Homo sapiens: one gene and its partner. Each later gene encodes a partner of the first gene's protein in a complex. Each region holds a gene or a part of one and is shown on either strand. Other genes may lie near its edges.

Evidence for each region. Proteins that work in one complex are often made in the same cells at the same time.
Region 2: the proteins of BAK1 (region 1) and PXT1 are in contact, whole or in part, in a crystal structure (PDB 8GSV), measured with the Homo sapiens proteins. Residues at the interface, in NP_001179.1 of Homo sapiens: Ile81, Gly82, Asp84, Ile85, Asn86, Arg88, Tyr89, Glu92, Phe93, Met96, Leu97, His99, Leu100, Tyr110, Lys113, Ile114, Ser117, Leu118, Glu120, Ser121, Asn124, Trp125, Gly126, Arg127, Val129, Ala130, Phe134, Asn182; in NP_694535.2 of Homo sapiens: Ile78, Ile79, His80, Lys81, Leu82, Ala83, Met84, Gln85, Leu86, Arg87, His88, Ile89, Gly90, Asp91, Asn92, Ile93, Asp94, Arg96, Met97.

Annotation. Positions count from the first base shown.
Region 1 is NC_000006.12:33,577,277-33,584,241, forward strand, and holds the start of BAK1 (bcl-2 homologous antagonist/killer), read right to left. Parts: upstream 3,001-6,965; 5' UTR 2,749-3,000; intron 633-2,748; exon of another isoform or gene 522-632; intron 360-521; 5' UTR 329-359; coding exon 259-328; intron 41-258; exon of another isoform or gene 23-40; intron 1-22. UniProt on the Homo sapiens protein: Plays a role in the mitochondrial apoptotic process. Upon arrival of cell death signals, promotes mitochondrial outer membrane (MOM) permeabilization by oligomerizing to form pores within the MOM.
Region 2 is NC_000006.12:36,432,821-36,439,854, reverse strand, and holds part of PXT1 (peroxisomal testis-specific protein 1), read left to right. Parts: intron 1-968; 5' UTR 969-1,088; intron 1,089-7,034.

The sequences.
Region 1 (6,965 bases):
GCCCCGGTGGCACTGTGCCTACCTTACACTCACTTCCTGGCCTCTCCCAACCTCCAGGCCCTCCCCAGTCCAGACTCCTCCCCCTCCTGGGCTTAACCTTGACAGCAGCTCCAGCCTCTGAGCCCGTGGGTGGGGAAGAGTATTCCCCACCCACAGTGGGTGAACCGAGGCGAAGGAGCCTGCCTGAGTCCTGCTCCTTCCATCCTCACGACAGCACTCATGGTTATGGGATGGGTGAGGGGGCAGGAAGACCCTTACCAGAAGCAGAGGGCAGGGCAGGCTCTCCGCACTCCTGCCTGGGAGGACCTGGGCCTTGCCCCGAAGCCATTTTTCAGGTCTCAGTGGAGGACGGGATCAGCCTGCGGGGAAGGGCGAGAAAAAGCAGAGATGGGGGTGAGCACAGACCTGTGACTGGGGACCCCATACAGGTTGCCATGTCCACATAGGAGAGAGGATCCCCCATTCCCAGAAAGGCCCTTAGTCCTCTGGGACTTTGGCCAGGCCGGTCTCAAACTCCTGACCTCGTGAGTCTGCCTCGGCCATCCACAGTGCTGGGATTACAGGTGTGAGCCACCGTGCCTGGCCTCCTCTGGGACTTTTTATTCTTACTCCAGCATGGGTCCCAGTGAAGTCTGCTGGGAGGAAACAACTTACTGAACACTCCCTCTTTGAGGGAGACAGGGTAAGAAGGTGAGGCAGCCAAGGGCAGACTGAGGTATCTGCACCATCGAGGAGGGTGTGGCTGCAGCAGTGCCCGCTGGCTCTCAAGTTCATGCCACTCCTGGGGCAAGAGCCTGGGGGGTTTTTAGCTGTTCCTGGGGCCTCCTGCAGCCCACCCAGCACATGCTTATTGCAAGCGAGCCACTGCCCAGCCAATGGCCCATGAAGGCTGTCCTCAGAGGCCCTACTTCCCTCTGGCTGGCCAGAACACACCTGTTTTTTAACTCTGGGCTGTTAGCCGCAAACATTTCCTGAGAGCCTAAGATATACTCTCCCACTTAGGAGCACTCTGTGGGTGGTGAACACTGGAAACTCACATGAACCCAGCAGGGTGAGCGCCATCATACCCACTTTACAGGCAGGAAAAGTGAGGCACAAAGAGTTGAGTGCCCGAGGTCACATCGTTAGTCACGGAAAGTCAGGTTGTTTGTCTGAATCTCCGTGAGTCCATGTACTCAACACGCATGCAAGATTTCTTTTCCAGTTTGTGGACCTCAGAGTGTGTTCTTTCTCAGGGCAACTTTCCCTATTTACCTCCTGTCTGTGCCTTCCCCACTGCTGCCTTGCAGTGACCGGAGGGAGCCCTCAGGATCAGGGCCTTCTTTGAAGCCCCATAACCTGCCTCGTACTCCCACCACACACCTGGTCTTCTGTCCCCGGCCCCAATTTTCCTCTTTGCCTGGTCCTGACCGCAGCCCCAACCTGCTGTGACCCCTCATCAGGGCGAGTGTTTCCTGGATGTCAGCTGTTTCACTTTCAGTTTGCACCCCTCCCAGAGCCCCATTTCCCCAGGCAGCCTCCAGCCCTCAGAAGGAGAGCGCCCTCCTCCTATCCCAGAGGGAGGGGGTGTGCAGCCCCACCCTGGGCCAAGCACACAGCCCCACCCCCACCGCCCAGGGCCTGGGGACCTTCGCCCACCCTCCTTCCGCTAGGCCTGGGAGTGTTTTCGAAAGTGCCCCAAGAGCTCTCAAGAAGGGGTGGAGGAGGGCTGGACCACCTGTGCCCTCACCCAGCTCCCCACTCCTCCTCGATCTGCCGGACAGGGACAGGGTGAAGGCAGACCTTCCTCTCCTCCACCTCTAGGGGCAAGGCCTTGTTAAAACAGAACTTTGCAGCCGGGCATAGTGGCCCACGAGGTCAGAAGTTCAAGACCAGCTTGGCCAACATAATGAAACCCCATCTCTACTAAAAATACAAAAATTAGCTGGGCATGGTGGCGTGCGCCTGTAGTCCCAGCTACTCGGGAGGCTGAGGCAGGAGAATCGCTTGAACCTTGGAGGCGGAGGTTGCGGTCAGCCGAGATTGCGCCACTGCACTCCAGCCTGGGCAACAGAGCGAGACTCCATTTCAAAAAACAAAAAAAAAGAGTTTTGCTTGCCTCCCACCCCCCGTAGCTCCTTACATAAGATGGCCTTCCTTCTTCCCCAGTCTCCAGGACCCGGCACCCCCAGGACAGTAGGGCTGGAGGATGCTGACTGCACCTCCAACTCCCTCTACCAACACCCCAGGCTTCCGAGGGGAGCAGGTAGAGCCTCAGAACACCCACCAAGGCCAGCAACCTATGCTGACTCAGGCCTAGCTCTGCCTCCCCCATCCAAGTGGCCTAAATTCCCGGTGAGGGGAGCCACCCCCGACTTCCTGGGCTTGCTGGGCCCCGATGAATGTTGCCCAGGGATACATGCCTGGCCAGGCCCTGGACCCAGTCTAGGGATGTTGGGCAGCAGCAAGCGCTGAGAAAGTTCTCTCTCTGCCCTTGACCTTGGCTCTGACCTCCACTCCCATCTCCCAGACTGTTAAAGGACCCAGTTCTTACAGTTCTCCGGCATCCAGGGCTGGGCCAAGAGGGGAAGCTGTGAGGGGCAGCCAGAGGCAGGCATGGCAGGATCAGGTCCCCAGCCGGGGCGGCAGACCTGCCCAGGGAAGCCTTGAGCTTCCCCTTCCCCACCCGGCTCCCGGCAGGCTCCCTGCCCCACCCTGGGGCTGGGGCTGCTGAGATCTGGGAGGATGGACAAGACCCTTCCAGCTTACCTGCCGGGATCCTGGCCCAACCCGGGTGGCTCAGCAGGGTGGAGATGGAGGTCCCGAGGGGCTGGCGGCTGCTGCTCCCAGGGGCTGAGTGGGAGCCCAGTTTCCAGGAATGGGCGTCAGTGCATTCCCGGCATCTGGATGTAGCCTTTACTTGTCCCTGTGCAGCCCGAGGGACCCGCGAGACTCCAGTGATCATAGAGGTGCCAGCGGCACCCGGCTCCAATCAGCTCCCTCTAGAGGAAGTTGCTCTGTGGCCACCGGATGCAGACGCACAGGCCGACAGCCTGTAGGGTGATCTGGGTGGGCCAGGCCCAGGAGCATGTCCCGCCCACTTTCCCCACCCCACCTCCCAGGCAGGCAGGGCGGCTGTCAGTGGCCCACTGCTTTTCCCATCCCTGATTCTCAATCCTTGTCTTTGATCTTCTCCCCCACCTCTACATCAATCAATACCAATAAAAAACCCAGGGTGAGAAGTTTCTTAAGCACTGCTGCATGCCTGGCACTTTAGCAACTATTTGTCTCATTGGATCTTCTCAGCAACTCTTGTAAGTGAGTGCTGTTGACAATACCCATTCAGATGAACAGAGGCTCAGCTGGGTTAATCATCAGTTCTGGGCCAGGCGCGGTGGCTCACGCCTATAATCCCAGCACCTTGGGAGGCTGAGGCAGGCAGATCACGAGGTCAAGAGATCGAGACCATTCTGGCTAACATGGTGAAACCCCGTCTCTACTAAAAATACAAAAAATTAGCTGGGTGTGGTGGCGGGCGCCTGTAATCCCAGCTAGTTGGAAGGCTGAGGCAGGAGAATCCCTTGAACCTGGGAGGTGGAGGTTGCAGTAAACCAGGATTGCGCCATTGCACTCCAGCCCTGGTGACAGTGCAAGACTCCATCTCAAAAAAAATAAATAGTAATAATCAGTTCTGTAGTCGCATTGGGGAATACTAATACTAGATTGAGATTCAACCTGCAATTTAGACCTGTGCACCATGCACCTTGGTGGTCTCTGGATGTTTGAAATCCTGAAGGTGATAGTCAAGTAAACGGAGATTAAAACTCAATAGAGGCTGGGCCCAGTGGCTCACGCCTGTAATCCCAACACTTTGGAAGGCTGAGGTGGGAGGATTGCTTGAGCCCAGGAGTTCAAGACCAGCCTGGGCAACAAAGTGAGACCATGTCTCTACAAAAAAAAATTAGAAATTAGCTGGGTATGGTAGTGCACACCTGTGCATTTGGTGGTCCCAGCTACCTAGGAGGCTGAGGCAGGAGGATCACCTGAGCACAGGAAGTCGAGGCCACAGTGAGCCATGTTTGCACCACTGCATTCCGCCCTGGGCAACAGAGCAAGACCTTGTCTCAACAACAACAAAAAAGGCAGCCAGCTGCGGTGTGTCACGCCTAGAATCCCATCCCAGCCATTTGGGAGGCCAAGGCAAGAGGATCGCTTGAGGCCAGGTGCAGGAGTTCCAGGCCAGCCTGGGCAACAGCAATACCCTGCTTATACCAAAAAAAAAAAAAAAAAAAAAAAAAATTAGCAAGGCATGGTGTTGTATGCCTGTGGTCTTAGCTACTGGGGAGGCTGAGGTGGGAGGATTGCTTGAGCCCAGGAGGTCGAGGCTGCAGTAAGCTATGATTGCACCAGGGCAACAGAGGGAGAGTCTGTCTCTAGAAAAAAAAAAAAAAAAAAAAAAAAGGCCGGGCACGGTGGCTCACGCCTGTAATCCCATCCCAGCACTTTGGGAGCCCGAGGCAGGCAGATCACCTGAGGTCAGGAGTTCAAGACCAGCTTGCCTAACATGGCGAAACCCCGTCTCTTTTAAAAATACACAAAAGGGAGGCCAAGGCAGGTGGATCACCTGAGGTCAGGAGATTGAGACCATCCTGGCTAACATGGTGAAACCCCGTCTCTACTAAAAATACAAAAAAATTAGCCGGGCATGGTGGCAGGCGCCTGTAGTCCCAGCTACATGGGAGGCTGAGGCAGGAGAATGGCGTGAACTCAGGAGGCAGAGCTTGCAGTGAGCCGAGATCACGCCACTGCACTCCAGCCTGGGTGACAGAATGAGACTCCGTCTCAAAAAAAAAAAAAAAAAATTGGTCGGGCACGGTGGCTCACGCCTGTAATCCCAGCACTTTGGGAGGCCGAGGCTGGCTGATCACCTGAGGTTGGAAGTTCGAGACCAGCCTGACCAACGTGGAGAAACTCCACCCCTATTAAAAATACAAAATTAGCCAGGCGTGGTGGCGCATGCCTGTAATCCCAGCTACTCTGGAGGCTGAGGCAGGAGAATTGCTTGAACCCGGGAGGCAGAGTTGTGGTAAGCTGCGATTGCGCCATTGCACTCCAGCCTGGTCAACAAGAGCGAAACTCCATCTCAAAAAATAATAATAATAATAAATAAATAAAATAAAGCCGGTTGTGGTGGCGTGCGCCTATAATCCCAGCTACTTGGGAGGTTGAGGCAGGAGAATTGCTGAACCCAGGAGGCGGAGGTTGCAGTGAGCTGAGATTGTACCACTGCACTCCAGCCTGGGTGACAAGAGTGAAACCCCATCTCAAAAAAATAAAATAAAAATAGGGCCGGGCACGGTGGCTCATGCCTGTAATCCCAGCACTTTGGGAAGCCGAGGTAGGTGGATCACAAGGTCAAGAGGTCGAGACCATCCTGGCCAACATGGTGAAACCCTGTCTCTACTAAAAATACAAAAATTAGCCGGGCGTGATGGCGGGTACCTGTAGTCCCAGCTACTCAGGAGGCTGAGGCAGGAGAATCGCTTGAAGCCAGGAGGCGGAGGTTGCAGTGAGCCAAGATTGTGCCACTGCACTCCTGCCTGGCGACAGAGCTAGACTCCATCTCAAGAAATTAAAAATAAAAATAAAAACAAGGCCGGGCCCGGTGGCTCTCGCCTGTAATCCCAGCACTTTGGGAGGCCGAGGCGGGTGGATCACGAGGTCAGGAGATCGAGACCATCCTGGCTAACACGGTGAAACCCCATCTCTACTAAAAATACAAAAAATTAGCTGGGCGCCGTAGCAAGCGCCTATAGTTCCAGCTGCTTGGGAGGCTGAGGCAGGAGAATGGCGTGAACCCAGGAGGCAGAGCTTGCAGTGAGCCGAGATAGCCCACTGCACTCCAGCCTGGGCGACAGAGCGAGACTCTGTCTCAAAAAAATAAATAAATAAAAATAAAAACAAATAAATAAATAGACTTAGTGGGGTCTGTGCTACCACCTGGACACAAAACCTGGATGCTAAGAGGGAAGACAGATACTGTCTGGCTGCTGGGAGTGTTCTTGAGGACAGAACAAACCCAGGAAGGACAGAGGTGTGTGCAGTCCTCAATAGCCCCTGCCCTCAGGGTTCAGTTCCCTCCCTGCCTCTCCCTGTTTGCTCCCTGCCAAGCTTCCTGGGGCTCTCACATCTTTTCCTCCAAGTCTCCACCCCCTTTCCCCCAAAATCCCTGCCTGCCCCCCACACCTCCTTCCCTGCTTCATCAAACCCCTGCCCCCTCTACCTCCAACTAATCTCCCCCAACCTCCCATCCTCCCCAGTCTTTGCTTCCCAGAATTCTGGGAAGTTTCCAACTGGAGGTTTTAATTTGAAAACTCTTCCTGTTCTTAAGCAGTTGGTCCTGGGGTGGCTGTTACAGGATCTGAATTGGGGACCTTCTCAGGATGGAGGCCCCAGCTCCGAAGCCCTGATCATGAATTTCAGGCTGCTCCTCCATGTTCCGCCACCAGGGTGCCATTTCCCTGATGATGAGCCAAGAGGGACATGTGAGGAGGAGGGGGCCGGGACCATCTGCCTTGCCGCCCCACCCCTTCTCTGTGGCCATACCCAGGGGCTTCTCAAAACGGTCACAGCAGCCTCCCTTAAAGCTGGGCATGGGGCGTATGGTGACCTACACCTGCAAGAGCAAGAAGGCCTGGCGGAGAGGTGAAGTCAGTTCTGCCCATAGCAAGCCAGGAGGTGTTGGGCAACCTGCCTGAGAAGGAGGGGAAGGAGCCAGCAGGGGACGCCTCTGGGAAAACAGGGGCCTCAGACAGGTGAGGGGCTGGAATTGGGGGGTACCCAGGTTGGCAAGGCCTGGGACAGAGGTACTGAGAAGAGGCCTGGACATGAGATGGGGGAAGGGCATGGGCCTGAGATGGGGGACCCATGCTGGGGAGGGTCTGGGGAGGGAGGCCTTGGGTGGGTAAAGGTCTGGAACAGGGCAC
Region 2 (7,034 bases), 2.9 Mb from region 1:
AATGTGTTACGCTGGGTTTCGGCGGAGGCTGGGTGTAAACTGATAATGTTTATCTCTTGTTATTCCTGTTAATGGTTTACAAACAGGCTCTGGCCTTCGTATCCCATGTACTGGCTCTGGCAGCTCACATGACCTCTTGTTTATGAACACACAAGTCTCATTCTTGAACCTAATACTGAGAATGCTTAGTTGTTTTTTTTTTTTTTTTTTCAGCCTTATATGAGTGTTGTTGTTGTTGTTTTGAGATGGAGTCTCCCTCTGTCGCCCAGGCTTGAGTGCAATGGCGTGATCTCTGTTCACTGCTACCTCCACCTCCCGGATTCAAGCGATTATCCTACCTCAGCCTCCCAAGTAACTGGGATTACAGGCATGCGCCATTATGCCCAGCTAATTTTTTTTATTTTTAGTAGAGATGGGGTTTCACCAGGTTGGCCAGGCTCTTCTCCAACTCCTGACCTCAGATGATCCACCCGCCTCCGCCTCCCAAAGTGCTGGGATTACAGGCGTGAGCCACCACTCCCAGCCACCTTATATGAGTTTTAAATAAACTGCATTTGGAAAAGAAAATAGGCCGGACGCCTGTAATCCCAGTACTTTGGGAGGCCAAGGCGGGTGGATCACCTGAGGTCGGGAGTTTGAGACCAGCCTGTCCAACATGGTGAAACCCCGTCTCTACTAAAAATACAAAAAATTAGCTGGGCGCGGTGGTGCGCCTGTAATCCCAGCTACTTGAGAGGCTGAGGCAGGAGAATTGCTTGAACCCAGGAGGCGGAGGTTGCAGTGAGCCAGGATCGCACCACTGCTCCAACCTGGGCGATACCGAGACTCCGTCTCAAAAAAAAAAAAGTTCCAATAACCCACTGAGCCACCACAGAAAGCTATGAGATATTTATTTAGTAGATAGGTAAACTTTATTTCGCAAGCCCAAGGGGATAATTTACTTTTCATCCCCCTCTCTTTAAAAACAGAGAACCTCCAACAAATGGTATATAAAGGAAAACAAAGCAAACAAAAGAGGGAAACTTTGCAATTTATTAACTCAAGCATGAAAATACAGAAAATAAAGAGGGCTCAACATACTTGGAAAAGTAAGTCTGAACTTACTGCATTAAAACATGGTGTTGCGCTAATCCTGCCGGGCGCAGTGGCTCATGCCTGTAATCCCAGCACTTTGGGAGGTCGAGGCGGGCGGATCACGAGGTCAGGAGATCAAGACCATCCCGGCTAACACGGTGAAACCCCATCTCTACTAAAAATACAAACAATTAGCCGGGCGTGGTGGCAGGCACCTGTAGTCCCGGTACTCGGGAGGCTGAGGCGGGAGAATGGCGTGAACCCAGGAGGCGGAGCTTGCAGTTAGCTAAGATCACGCCACTGCACTCCAGCCTGGGCGACAGAGCGAGACTCAGTCTCAAAAAACAAAAAACAAACAAACAACAACAACAAAACATAGTGTTGCACTAATCCAATGAATTGTCAGGCAAATGAGGCATGAAACATTGCCAAAATACAAAGTCAGTAAAATATCCATATTACTCTTTGTCATTATATGTTTTATTTTATTGGGATCTGGTAAAGAATAGATTATTCCCAAATCTACATTACTAGCAAAATAAGTGAAATTATTTTACAAAGAATTTATTATTCTGGTAAATTGTTAATAGTGGCAGGTCAAAAGCAACTGAAACTCCAACAAAAGATACACATGTGCCTCATTTATAAGAAAGCATTAATAGGCCGGGCTCGGTGGCTCACGCCTATAATCCCAGCACTTTGGGAGGCCGAGGCAGGTGGATCACCTGAGGTCAGGAGTTCGAGACCAGCCTGATCAACATGGTGAAACCCCGTCTCTACTAAAAATACAAAAATTAGCTGGGCGTGGTGGCAGGTTCCTGTAATCCCAGCTACTCGGGAGGCTGAGGTAGGAGAATCACTTGAACCCGGGACGTGGAGTGTGCAGTGAGCCGAGATAGCGCCACTGCACTCCAGCCTGGACGACAGAGCAAGACTCTAAAAAAAAAAAAAAAAAAAAAAGCAGTGGCTGGGCACGGTGGCTCACGCCTGTAATCCCAGCACATTGGGAGGCTGAGGAGGGCAGATCACAAGGTCAGGAGATCGAGACCATCCTGGCTAACACGGTGAAACCCCGTCTCTACTAAAAATATTTTAAAAAATTAGCCAGGCATGGTGGCGGGCGCCTGTAGTCCCAGCTACTCAGGAGGCTGAGGCAGGAGAATGGCATGAACCCAGGAGGCAGAGATTGCAGTGAGCCGAGATCGCGCCATTGCACTCCAGCCTGGGCGACAGAGCAAGACTCCATCTCCAAAAAAAAAAAAAAAACCCACACAAAAAATATTTTTTGTTTATATGTGAAACAGACAAGTTCTAGATTCAGATCATTATAACTGGATTTTTTGCCTACATGAATATCCAGAGGGACAGTCAACATACAGAATGTAGGACAATTTTTTTGTGGAGGGCAGGACCTTTACAGGCATTGGAGGAGGTCTGACATACCTGACTCTACCTATTAAATTTGGGTTTTTTTTGGTTTTGTTTGTTTGTTTTGAGATGGAGTCTCGCTCTGTCGCTCAGGCTGGAGTGCAGTGGTATAATCTCGGGTCACTGCAACCTCCACCTCCTAGGTTCAAGCGATTCTCCTGCCTTAGCCTCCCAAGTAGCTGGGATTATAGGCCCGTGACACCACGCCCGGCTAATTTTTGTATTTTTAGTAGAGACAGGGGTTTCACCGTGTTGGCCAGGCTGGTCTTGAACTCCTAACCTCAAGTGATCCGCCCACCTCAGCCTCCCAAAGTGCTGGGATTACAGGCATGAGCCACTGCACTTGGCCTCTATATTTGAATATAACCTCACATTAATGTAACTGTACAATTGCACCCCAAAATTTTGAACAATGCCCCCTAGAGACTAGTACACCCTAGTTGAAGCCTACTTATCAAATATCCCATACTGTGAAATTTTTGTTCACTGTTGTAACCTTGCATCTAGTTTGATGCCTGACACATAGTAAGAATTTAATAAATATTTCCCAATGGACACAAGAGAGTTCCTTTTACTTACATGGCATTTTTCATATTCCTTATGATAATGATTCACATTTGTTTTTCCAGTCCTGACCTCTCTTCTGAGCTCCAAATTCATATTGGCAAATGCCCACTTAACATCTTTACTTGAATGACTTTCACATACCTCAAACACTAAGTATATCCAAAATTGAACTCATCATTTCCTGCCATTGCATCCCTCCCCCAGATACAACCCAGTACCAAACAAGGCAAAATGTTAATTCCGTGCTGGTGCTCTCTGGTTTAGTAACTGCCACTATGACCCACTTACTTAAGGAATCATCAAAACCCTGGCATTATCCATGATTATTTTCTACTTATCATCCCATTTTCTAATCAATCAATTCTAGTTCCTAAATCTCAAATTTATCTCCTTTCCATCTCCAGTGCTTCTGTCCTAGTGGATTATTGAATTACTACAGTGGTCTCTTGCCTGCTTCCAAACCACCTCCATCCAGTAGCCAAAGTGATCTTTTAAAACAGAAATCCCATCAGGTCATCCCTATGTTTAAATTCCTTAAAGAGTTTCTCACTTTTTTTTTAGGACAAAATCTAAAGCCCTGCAGGATTTGGCCCCTGCCTATGTATCTTTTCTTATTTTGTGCCACTTACTCAGTACTCTGCAATCATGCTGGCTTTTTTTTTTTTTTTTTTTGGCTTACTTTTTTTTTTAATTAATTTTTATTAAATGAATCCAGGCACATCATTTAAAAACCAATCATTGTTAAGCAGTTTATTTTTTGAAAAAGTTTATGGCACAGTCTTGTTTTCCAGGATCCCTGCTTTCATCTCTGTTGACTTACTCCTTTCTTTTGGTAGAGCCCTTCCCTTCTCCACTAGCTTCCTGATGCAAGGGAGGTTAATTTTTTGAGATGTTGCAGGAAAAGGGGGTTTATTCTAGTCTTACTTGTTTGTTAGTGTGAGTAGGTGTACAGTCTAGATTGGAAAACATTTTCTCTCAGGATTTTGAAAGCTCTGCTGTCTTCTAACTTCCAATAGTGCCATCAAGTTTGTTCTTAATTGATTTTTTTCAATCTGGAAGATTTTAGGATCTACTGTTTATCATTGATGAATTCCAAGATGTGTGTGTGTATATTGGTTTAGGTCTTTTCCATTTGTTGTTCTGGGCCTTTTCATCCTGGAGACATATTTTGTTCTTTTGTTCTGCGATGTTTTCTTGCATTTGTTTGTTTCTTTTCTTTTCTTAGGGACAGGGTCTTACTCTGTCACCCAGGCTAGAGTGCAGTGGCATGGTCATAGCTCACTGCGGCCTGGAACTCCTGGGCTCAAGTATCCTCCTGCCTCAGCCTCCTGAGTAGCTGGACTACAGGAGCAGAGCACCATGTCCAGCTAATTAAAAAAAAAAAATTTTTGTAGAGATGGGGGTCTACCTATCTTGGCCAGGCTGGTCTTGAACTTCTGGGCTCAAGCGATCCTCCTGCCTTGACCTCTCGAAGTGCTGGCATTACAGGCGTAAGCCATTGCACCTGGCCTGGTTAATTTTTAAAATTTTTTGTAGAGATGGGGTTCTCCAACTTCTGGGCTGAAGCAATCTTCCCTCCTCAGCCTCCCAAATGCTGGGATTAAAGACATGAGCCATCACACCTGGCCACATTTGTTTCTTTGATAATTTCTTCTCTAAAGCTTTTGCTAATTTTTCTTTTTTCTTTTTTTTTTCTGGAATTCTTATTATTCAGATATTGTAACTTCTAGATACTCTAATTTATCTTTTTTATTGTCCATATTTGTCTTCTGTGACAATTGAGTTTTTCATTACCTTCAAGGGTGATTTTCAATCACATAAAAGTACCTTTCAGAAAAGTTAATCTCCCTAAGCTGTTAAAAGAGGCATAAAGAGAAAATTATAACATTTCAGCTGATACATTTTATTGTTTTAGTTAAAAGGCTAGCAAATTTTAGCAATCAATTGAAAAGGGGCTTTTGCCACTTAACTAAAGACAAATCTTTTCAAACCACAGACATTTCAAATATTTTATTTCTTCTTTATATACCTGAATTGTCTGACTGACAAACCTTCTCAAGTACTTAAGCATCTATTGTAGACCTGATAATGTTATAAATATGCATGATTATTGATTCTCTTATAAACGAACTTCTCTTGGAAATTACAAGTATAGATTTGATTTTATTTGGCCTTTATACACCCAACTATTTCATCAAAACTAAGGAGAATTTCAGTTATGTCATTAATGTTCCATTACGATTGGAACCTATAATGGCTACCTCATTTGGTTGGATTCAACTAATTTATTTATTGCTTTTCAAAATAGGCCACAATTCTTAGAGACATTAACATAAAATTTTATTAAATTTTAGATCTCTCCTGACTTTTTTATTATGAAAAATTTCAAACATAAAAAGTTGAGGGTATAGTATTTCAACAAGTATACCCATTACTTAGATGCAATAATCACCAACATTTTGCTGTGTGTGTACATTCCAAGATGTGTGTGTATATATTGGTTTAGGTCTTTTCCATTCGTCATGCTGGGCCTTTTCATCCTGGAGACATATGTCCTTTTGTTCTGGGATGTTTTTTTGCATTTCTTTGTTTCTTTTCTTTTTCTTTTTCTTTTTTTTTAGAGACAGGGTCTTACTCTGTCAACCAGGCTGGAGTGCACTGGCATGATCATAGCTCACTGCAGTGAGCTCCCAATATTTGCTTTATTTCTATGGCTATTTATTATGAAAAATTTCAAATATAAAGGAAGTTTAAGACAAATACAGCCAACACTAGTATATCCACTACTTATAATAGATTAAACAGTTGTTAACATTTTCTCATATTTTCTTTATTTTTATATTTATCTATTTTGCTGAACTATTTGAAAGTAAGTGGCGGACAATATGACATCTCACTTCAGAATTGCATTTGGCTTTCTTATCTCTTTAGCCTCTTTTCTTTTCTTTTTTTTTTTTTTTCCTGAGACAGAGTCTTGTTCTGTCACCCAGGCTGGAGTGCAGTGGAGTGCAGAGCTCACCGCAATCTCTGCCTCCCAGGTTCATGCCATTCTCCTGCCTCAGCCTCCCGAGAAGCTGAGACTACAGGTGCCTGCCACCACGCCTGGCTAATTTTTTTTTTTTGTATTTTTTGGTAGAGACAGGTTTCATCATGTTAGCCAGGATGGTCTCGATCTGCTGACCTCGTGATCCACCCGCCTCGGCCTCCCAAAATGCTGGGATTACAGGCGTGAACCACCGTGCCCGGCCTAGCCTCTTTTCATGTAGAGCAATGCCCTTCCCCATCTGCCTACCATTTTGTTCCCCCATGACACTGATTTCTTAAGGACATCAGAGCAGTTTTCTTGTAGAATCTTCTCATGACTTTTCCTGAATTATAACAATCTCCAAGGTCATTCTCTTTTGGAGCACTTTTTTTGTCTTTATCTTTCACAATGTATATATTTTTTACAGATTTCTAATTATAGTATTTGTAATTTCCAGCTGCTCTTGTTTATTCTTATAGTGTTTCTTCTTTTAGCATCCTGTTCTTGTTTCATGGATATCATATTTCTCTGATGATATAATTTCTTTGAAGTATTTTTATGCTCCCTGCATTGTCTCAGTTTTCTGTGATTCTTTTCCCCCCTGATTCCTCCATGCTTGAGGTTTAGAATTTTTTTTATGTTACAGATTTTCCTCTAGTATCCGATGATTTTTGTACATTTATATTTTAAGAATAAAGTCCTAAAAGCTAATTGGAAATTCTAAGTATATGCTTGAGTCTTATCAATTGAAAGAATTCACTGGAGGCTTTTTCTATGGGAGCCACCAATATGTCAGGTTTTTTCCCCTAAGAAGTACCTTTTTTTTTTTTTCCTGCTAGAGAGTAGAACCTGGTTATGAAGTTCTACATCTATGCAGGAGAAGAGGCCTGGGTGTTTTCTTTTCAGTAATATGTCTGACTCTCACTCTGATCTATGCCAA